3 separate regions of the Homo sapiens genome follow, and all the other regions are reported to be linked to region 3. The links are microRNA targets in miRTarBase. Many come from high-throughput screens and were not tested one by one. Region 3 holds a microRNA gene; each other region holds the end of a gene's coding sequence.

Evidence for each region. The annotated mature microRNA hsa-miR-4799-5p reads AUCUAAAUGCAGCAUGCCAGUC and lies in region 3 at 995-1,016, opposite strand. An mRNA with a match to its seed (bases 2 to 7 or 8) in the 3' UTR can be bound and repressed. Matches are read on the target gene's strand: a 7mer-m8 pairs with bases 2 to 8, a 7mer-A1 pairs with bases 2 to 7 and ends in A, and an 8mer does both.
Region 1: miRTarBase lists ZBTB10 as a target of hsa-miR-4799-5p. Seed matches in the 3' UTR shown: 8mer at 1,731-1,738.
Region 2: the mRNA of SGO1 is a reported target of hsa-miR-4799-5p. Seed matches in the 3' UTR shown: 7mer-A1 at 1,596-1,602 and 7mer-A1 at 1,553-1,559.

The regions. Positions count from the first base shown.
Region 1 is chr8:80,519,032-80,522,031 of GRCh38, reverse strand. It overlaps ZBTB10 (zinc finger and BTB domain containing 10), which reads right to left. Exons shown (of 6, transcript NM_001105539.3): 6 at 1-2,809. The coding sequence ends at 2,504. Among named protein-coding and RNA genes, the nearest start is that of LINC02986, 19 kb to the left of the region's middle.
Region 2 is chr3:20,167,980-20,170,979 of GRCh38, forward strand. SGO1 (shugoshin 1) reads right to left here. Exons shown (of 8, transcript NM_001199251.3): 8 at 1,505-2,836. The coding sequence ends at 2,725. Among named protein-coding and RNA genes, the nearest start is that of SGO1-AS1, 4.8 kb to the right of the region's middle.
Region 3 is chr4:147,780,256-147,783,619 of GRCh38, reverse strand. MIR4799 (microRNA 4799) reads right to left here and starts at 1,025; the gene lies at 952-1,025. The region is part of intron 1 of ARHGAP10 (Rho GTPase activating protein 10); the gene reads right to left. RefSeq lists enhancers at 2,672-2,721, 3,052-3,191.

The DNA.
Region 1 (3,000 bases), not on the chromosome of region 3:
AAAATGTTTACTTCAAAGAAATTTTTATATAGGCTGAGGCTAATATATTCAAGAGTATAAACACTTTTCCTTTGGATTACCTAAAAACAAACTTTTAAAGTATCATATTTCAATTGACTAAAAATATAGCCAAATCTGTCACAACACAACATAAAGTAATGGACAATTATAGAATATTTTAAATTAACAGTAACAAGCCATCTACATCAAACCTTATTTCCAACTAAAACCAAACAAAAGCACAACAATCCCGTAGTGTACCAAGTGTGTATTTCAATTTACTGTATGCAATCTAACAAAAATTTGGTCATAATTTACCAGATATACATAAATGATTTAAGTAGTAAAAGAAAATTCAGCTTCAAGAGAGTAAGTTCATATCTTGAGGAAAAGTAAAAGTACATTAAGAATGTAAAGCCAAGTCCAGTTTCTATGCAATAAGTGAACTGTAGTCTAATAAAGCAGATTTAGGTGATTTTTAGATATATATCTTTGTTCTTTAATATATATTTATATATAGACAGATCTACCAATTGTAAACTAGTTTATTTAAAGGAAGGGGATAAATGGGATGAAAGAAATCTTTATACTATACTTACATATTCACAAAGAACATTTTACGTTTAAAATACTTTTTCATTCATAGTATCTTTGCCCAACTAATTTCTACCAGAAATACATTTTACTCATTTGTCTAGAACATTAAGAAGTACTCATCTGTTTTAAACAAAAATCAAACCGAAACTATTCTTATCTGTCAGGTTTACAGTTATGTAGAAACTACAATATAGATGACAAAAGATGCATCTAACCATGTAACTGTAATTTATCTTTGATTTATCCAAGCAGAAACATCATTGTCTAACAATAAACCATTATTCTACTGAAATCAGAGACAATGATAAAGCTTGTCTCTTAAAAAACATCAACTTTTCAACTTTGATCAGATGGAGCACCAAAGGGATTATATCTGTCAAAGCATCTTTGCAATTTTTTCCACATAACTAGCATAATTTAGTTACCTGATATAAAATAGGAAAATATACTCAATTTTTATTTAAAAGAAAGCTGAAAATATGACATCCCTCAATCTTATATAATATACAATATGCTAATAAATGCCATACATGTTAACAATACGTGAAATGCTGCTGAGAGTTCCACAATCAGCTAATTCATGTCACCAGGCTAAGTAAATCTGACAATTTCACCTCAATATGTCACCCTTTGTACCCTGAAGAATTTATAGAATAATAAAGCTTCTCAGAATTTTATTTGTAAGATTTTTGAGACTGTTGAATCATGGTGACTACTAGAAAGACTGTATCAAGGTGTAGTGACTTCAAGGACAGAAAAAAATAAATTAAGTATTGATCATAATTTCAAAACAATCAATATCCCGCTAAGTATGAAACAAAAGAGAATGCACATTTTGTGTTAATTTTCATGATAAAAGGGACACGGGTAAAAACCTGATATTTCACTTATATTGCATAACAAGCTAACCAAACTGGACATGGTGGATAAATTATAAAACAAATCATTTTACTTATTTCTATGATTTTTCTTTCAATTAGGTCTTTCAAATAGGACTGAGGTATAGTACACTGGCAAAAATAAAGAGGCAAACAAGAATAGTGCCAAAGTAACAGATACCCAAAACCAAATACCATGTCAGAAAATATCATATAGTAACCATTTATCAGATTAGAGCAGCAGAAGAAAGTTACTTCTAAATCATAATCATTTTAGTGGTATTTGTCAACTTCGCCACGGTAACTTCATAACATCATTCTTCATTTGTGAAGTAGTAAAATTCATGTCAAAAAGGAAGAGGGGAATGGAGGAAGTCAGTTAGTTCATTCCAATAAATTACCTCTCCAGTTCTTATAAACATGCCCATCAGCACAAAATCGAGAAATAATACCTAAGACTAGAAGAGACTTGGTTTAAGTTATGAAGCAAATTAAATGGAAAAATACAAGAAAATAGAACCAATGGGGTTGAAAAAGCCCCTCACTGAAAATCTGTATTAAAAAAAATAAAATTAATAAAAATAAAAATAGAAACAAAACTCTACTAGTACAAACTAGCCTGAGTGGTTTGATGGACAGAGTGATTGGGTCAATTGTCACTGTACTTCCATAAACGGATTTTCTCCATTCATGTTAAAGTAGCACATGAATGTAAGCTCTTTAAGGACTATTTTCATAGGACCCAAATAGTTACTGTATATCCTATAAATAAAAAATATTTTACTTTGATAACTGACTGAGTATGTGGGGACTCCATGTAATCCAACCACATGGTTGTTTGCTGTATAGTCCTGTGCAAATATAAAAAAAAATTTTTTTTGCTATAAGGCTTTGACCCTACAGTTTTCACAGCAACATAACTACTATCCAGCATGTACCATATTTTGCAAGCCTTCAAGTTCAACAATCCAAATTGTCGATTCATATTAGGTCCAAATGCAGCATCCTTGAGGAGTATAGTAGGTCAGTTAATCATCTAGAGACATACAAACTTCTCCTGATTCATCCCATCGAGAGGGATCATTCTGATCTTCTCCATCATCAACTAGCTCTTCATCAGCTTCTCCTACTTCATTCTCCTCGTATTCTTCATCCCGAGGGAATTCTGTATCCTGTCCCTGATCTACACCTTCTTGCCCTCCTGGCTGTGATTTATCTGCACAGTCTACACAAACACCATAACGTCGAGATCCATGTCTTATTCCAACACTGGCTGCTAACATGAAGATCTTCTTACACACCATACATTTGTATTTTTTATCCTTTTTATGCACCTAATTGGAGGGGGAAAAAATCCAATATAAGGATATTATATATAATAGAATGCATTTGAACCACTCAAATTAAACCACACATTTAATAGTGAGTGAATACACCAGTTTCTCTGTAAAAAGCTCACTATCAGTTCATAAAGTCAAACTGTTTAAAGCAATTTAGGAGACAATCTTCCTTAAATTCACAATTA
Region 2 (3,000 bases), not on the chromosome of region 3:
GAAAATAATCTACATCTGCCAACACGGATAAATCTCAAAAACAATATTGAGTTAAAAGTCAGTTGTAAAATGATGTGTACAATATTCCTATAAAATGTTAAGATATAAAACAATACTTAAAAGCCTATGAACAAATATGACAGCAAGACTATAGGAACACTAAAAATACAAACAATTCAACACTGATTTTAGGATAATGATTGACTTTGGGGATGAAGGGAAGGTAAGGATCAAAGCTAGATCAGAGTGTCAGACCAGAATGATCTTTAAGGCAAAAGTAAAGTACTCAATGGTCTAGAGCAGGAGTTGGCAAACTTTTTTGGTAAAGACCAGAAAGTAAATATTTTAGGATTGTAGGCCAAGAGGCAAACTCAAGAATATAATGTAGGTACTTTACTGGAGTTCAAAGTTAGTGCTTCTATCATTAAAATTGATTTCAAATGTTTGCTTTTTTTTTTTTTTTTCAACTATTTAAAAACGTAAAAACTATTCTTAGGTTGAAGACCATCCAGAAGCAGGTGGTGTGCTAGATTTGGCCCATAGTCCAACTGTACTTTCTGTGATGATGGAAATGTTCAATATTTCCTCAATTGTCTAATATGGTAACCACTAGCCACATATGGCTACTGATCATTTGAAAGGTGGTTACATGGACTGAGAAACTGTTTTTTTTTTTTTTTTGAGATGGAGTCTCGCTCTGTCACCCAGGCTGGAGTGCAGTGGCACCATCTCGGCTCACTGCAAGCTCCGCCTCCCGGGTTCACGCCGTTCTCCTGCCTCAGCCTCCCAAGTAGCTGGGACTACAGGCGCCTGGCTAATTTTTTCTATTTTTAGTAGAGACGGGGTTTCACCGTATTAGCCAGGATGGTCTCGATCTCCTTGACCTCTCGTGATCTGCCCGCCTTGGCCTCCCAAAGTGCTGGGATTACAGGTGTTAGTAGTTTCTCGTGCCTGGCTGAGAAACTGACTTTTTAATGGTCTGTAGTCTTAGTTTAAGATAGCTACTCTAGTGTTTCCATGAAATTAAAGAATAAGTATGAAGGGAGTAGTAAGAAAAAAAAAACTTAAAAATTAAGAGACTGTGATGGAAGACTAGGGTGTATGAATCAGTGATGTGGCGGATAGAAAAATTTGGGATGATGAAAAGGATTTTGGCTCTGACTGACATAGAATACAGAAAGATAGGGAGATAACAGCCAAGAAAATCTGAGATATCAGGATTAGAACAGTCCCTCAATAAAATTATAATTTGTTAATCATGAACTGGGAGATTACACAGAGATAAGTTGGGAGAGAGAAGTGTTAGGTTGAAAGTATGGAGGGGAAGCTGAGAGTTTTATAGCAATGACTACTGAAAATACTAAGGATTAACTCACCTAGAACACCCCCCCCTCAAAAAAGAGAATACCAAGGGGAGGGGAGAGGAAATGTCCAAGGATGAGAATAGTGAAGACAGAGAGATACTCTATTTTTGATATTTAAAGAATAGAAGGAAAGCAATCACTATCTTATACAAACTTTATTGCTCTTTAAAAATGAATAACCTACAAAGTTCTAAAATTTAAAGAGGTATATACAAGTATAGACATCAAACTTTCTAAACTGAACTAATTCGCTTTCATTGGTTGGTCAAAAATATGCAAAAACCCTAAATATTCACACATTTAATCTCTGAGATTTCTGACTAAATAAGGAGCTACCCTGAAAGTACATGACATTTGTAATTTTATGGAGACATCACTCTGAACATACAATTAGAGCTTGGGGTTCACAATTAGTCACTTATCTTGTCCCTGAGCCTAAAAAAGAATCAATTTCTCTAGTCATTTTCCCATACATATTTTATCTGAAAAATTAAATATAACAGTGGTATAAGGAATTCATAAACAACTTAGGGTGTACCCTACTGTAAATGTCAAATATTTATTTTACTCGAATACTACACAGAGTTTCAAAAGATCCACAATAATTTATTTTACTCAAATATTGTACTAAAGAGTTTCAAAAGATCCTCTTAGAAAATCATTCACTTTAGTATCCCCTACTTAAGGGAAAAATAGAGATGCCAGAAGCTTATAATTAAAAGATCTTATTTGAGTAATCATTATTCATTTCTACAATGTTTGTATAAGATACATTTTGGGCTGGGCACAGTGGCTCAGTAATCCCAGCACTTTGGGAGGCCGAGGTGGGCAGATCACCTGAGGTTGGGAGTTTGAGAGCAACCTGACCAACATGGAGAAACCCTGTCTCTACTAAAAATACAAAATTAGCCGGGCGTAGTGGCACATGCCTGTAGTCCCAGCTACTCGGGAGTCTGAGGCAGGAGAATCGCTTGAACCTGGGAGGCGGAGGTTGCGGTAAGCTGAGATCGTGCCATTGCACTCCAGCCTGGGCAACAAGAATGAAATTCCGCCTCCAAAAAAAAAAAAAGATATATTTCGACTAAAATTAAGAGGTTTAGGCAGCATAAGAAATCGATATGATGATAATGCTTAAGCTCAGTTATTTATATTCAAAAGAAAAAATAAATTAAATTTATTAAAGTTTTAATACAAAGCATCCCATTTGAAGTATAGTTCTGAAGAAATGTTTATGAGCTAGGGTCCTGTCAAGAGAATATTCTATGGCAATGGCTCACTCTGTTTGTGTACTCTTACAGATCCTCTCCTGAAGCAACAGAAAGAGGTGTAGATTGAATTTAAACAATATCCAACAAAACCTTCATTGTATTTGTTTCATACTTTTTTTAGAACGTCTCAAATCCTTTTTCTGCTTGAAAATAGGAGAATTCAAAAAACACAAATCTGTAAAAGGGTCCCCTCTTCTCAGTTTCCTGTAAGAGTAAAAAGAGATCTCAGGCATAATGTAAGCATCCCAATATTAACTTACTCTTCCCTACCAAGTTATGGTAAAACACACCAATTTTAAATGTTCTCACTTCAGTTTTTTTAAATCAAATGTTTATATTTCAGAAAAAACTCATTCTTGAACAAAGCT
Region 3 (3,364 bases):
TATAAATTATACAATACACAATTTAATGTGTTCTATAAATTATACAATACACAATTTAATGTGTGTTCTATAAATTATACAATACATAATTTAATGTGTGTTCTATAAATTATACAATACATAATTTAATGTGTGCTATATAAATTATACAATACATAATTTAATGTGTGCTATATAAATTATACAATACATAATTTAATGTGTGCTATATAAATTATACAATACATAATTTAATGTGTGCTATATAAATTATACAATACATAATTTAATGTGTGCTATATAAATTATACAATACATAATTTAATGTGTGTTATATAAATTATACAATACATAATTTAATGTGTGTTATATAAATTATACAATACATAATTTAATGTGTGTTATATAAATTATACAATACATAATTTAATGTGTTATATAAATTATACAATATATAATTTAATGTGTTATATAAATTATACAATATATAATTTAATGTGTGTTATATAAATTATATAATATATAATTTAACATATAATTTACATAATATATAATTTAACACATAATTTATATAATATATATAATTTAACATATAGTATATAATTTATATATATAATTTAACATATAGTATATAATTTATATAATATATATAATTTATATAATATATAATTTAATATATTATATATAATTTATATAATATATAATTTTATATATTATATAATTTATATATTATATATAATACGTAATATATGTTATATATATTTTATGTTGTTTTTATATATATATGAAAATTTTTCCTGGGTCTTTGGAGTCTTTAGAGACTAGCTGAGCTGTGAATAACTCAGGAATGCTGTCAAACTAACCAGGAAGTCTTTACACACATAAATTTTCCAGAAGTCTCTTCTTTCCTGTTTGCAAACTGGTCTGACCCCTCAGAACAAGTTGTACCACAGTCAGTACTGGGCATCTCAGACTGCTAATATATAAATGCAGCATGCCAGTCCCTGCATCTCAGGACTGGCATGCTGCATTTAGATATTAGCAGTGACTGAACCGATTACCACACAGGGCTTTACAAAACACCTTCAGGTCATTTGACCCAGCGATGTACACAGTTCTCACAAAGCAGATTTCTCAGCTTTAGTTCTTGCTGATGTTAAGACGACTCTTTCTGCTGACAACTGTTTCCACAAAGTATTCTCTAACTAGTAAATGACTCATACCGGAAGAACCCACTCCTGAAAATGTATTAATTTCATGCTGATAATAAAACGCATATGCCATGTGGAAAATGCCACCAGCACTCCATGACACTACACAACTTCAAAGACATAGAGTCTTGCTCCTCATGAAAACTCAACGTAGTTCAACACGCCCAATACATGATCTTTCAACCATACTGTGCCAAACTGTCAATTTTCAGAGTCAAGTATTTGTATGCCTAAACCCCACACACCCACCACAATTAAATTCAGTATGATTCAGTCTCTCTGCAGGACATTCACCTTATGGCAATGTGGCAAATGCTGCACTAGCAATAAAACTGTTCTCTTCATTCAAGTTGTTACTTTGCTATATTACCCCTTTGCAAGGCAAGGTCACAAGAGACATACTAAGCGGTAAAACTATTCAGCGACTTTTTAAAAGCCACTTATTTTACCGTATTTCAGAAATCAATGAAACTCAACTGTCAGTTTTCCAATGTGGAAACTCAGATTTAAAATAGATACCTAGAGTTTAGCAATATGTATCAAGAATTATACAAATCTGACTAAGAATTTAACTATGGAAATACTGACGCGTAAAGATGTACTTTGCTATCACTTATAATAACAAATAGCTGGAAAGAAATCTAGATTAGTAATTGTATGCAATTAATAAAGAAAACTAAGCCGAGATTGCGCCACTGCACTCCAGCCTGGGCGACAGAGCAAGACTGTCTCAAAAAAAAAAAAAAAAGAAAAGAAAAGAAAAAAATGAAAGAAAACTGGTACATTTAGAAGGTGAAACACTTAGCCATTAACGATATTCTTAGTAAAACATTTAGTATGGCAACATAGTCATAATAAGGACTACTATACCCTTTTTTAAAAATGGAGAACAAAACAAAAATGTCATAGTATGAACATAGTTGAGGGTCTTGACAAGGCGGTATTTAAGATGTAAAAGTAGCTCCCCGTATTTTTAAATGTGTATATATGACTTGCATATTCCCCATATGTAGGGTGAGCCTACATCCTGGCTTGCCAGGTCCAGCCCAATGTAAATATGAAATCATGTCCCAGTTTGGTCAAAAATTAAACGGTTGCCACACCTACCTATCCCCCAATAGTTTCTGGCACAATCTTAGCTCACTGCAACCCCCACCTCCCGGGTTCAAGTGATTCTCCTGCCTCAGCCTCTTGAGTAGCTGGGACTACAGGCACAGCTAAATTTTGTATTTTTTAGTAGAGACGGGGTTTCACCATGTTAGCCAGAATGGTCTCGATCTCTTGACCTCGTGATCCGCCCGCCTCAGCCTCCCGAAATGCTGGTATTACAGGCGTGAATCACCTTGCCCGGCCCCGCCAGTAGTCCTAGGTTAGGTCACTAACAGTTACTCCCTAAATCTATAGGGTTAAGTTTCCCACCATCAAATGCAAATCTGAGCCCTTGCGTCTTCTCTCATTCTCTGGAGCGTCTTCTCTCATTCTCCCAAAAGTGGGAGGTGGAGGACAAATGGCTTAACCCACACAAAATTGATGATACCAGCCTAGTGAGGCATCTTCCCTTGGCCCAGTCCACCCTAGGTGGACTTGCTCTCAGAGGATGCCATGCCGGCAGCACTCCTTTAGGTACCTGCTCACCCTGCTGTGTCTCAAGTTCTGTTACTACTTGCCTTTTCTGTCACCCCATGGCTGCTGCCCTGCTTATACCACCCACAAGATGAGGCAGGCTTGTTATGACCTGGGTATTTCCTTCTCTCTGGATAGGCAAGTGACTTCCCCTTCTCAAGTCCCTCTCCATGCAAAGGAGAAGAGGGGAATCCCACAACAGGGCTGCCTGCTCCCTGCACTGATAATACAGTTCAGTCTTTTTTTCCTAGTCTCCTTCTTCCCAAGGCCCTAAAGTCTCAAAAAGACACGCAAATGAGACCAAGCTGAGCACAGCATTTCATCACCTCTATAAACACTGCCCTCTTTCCTTCAAGCCTGCTGACCGGGCTCCCTCCTCCACTATGGTACCATTTTGTTTCACCCTTAGCGGGGCTACTGTCACTCCCAGTAATGTGACCGCATGCAAAGTTGGGGTGTAGCTAGATACTGGGTAGGAGAGGAGAGGTAGGGCAGAATCTGTCACCTAACTCCACACACTGGCATGCTGAGCCTCGGCCCTGATCCAGACA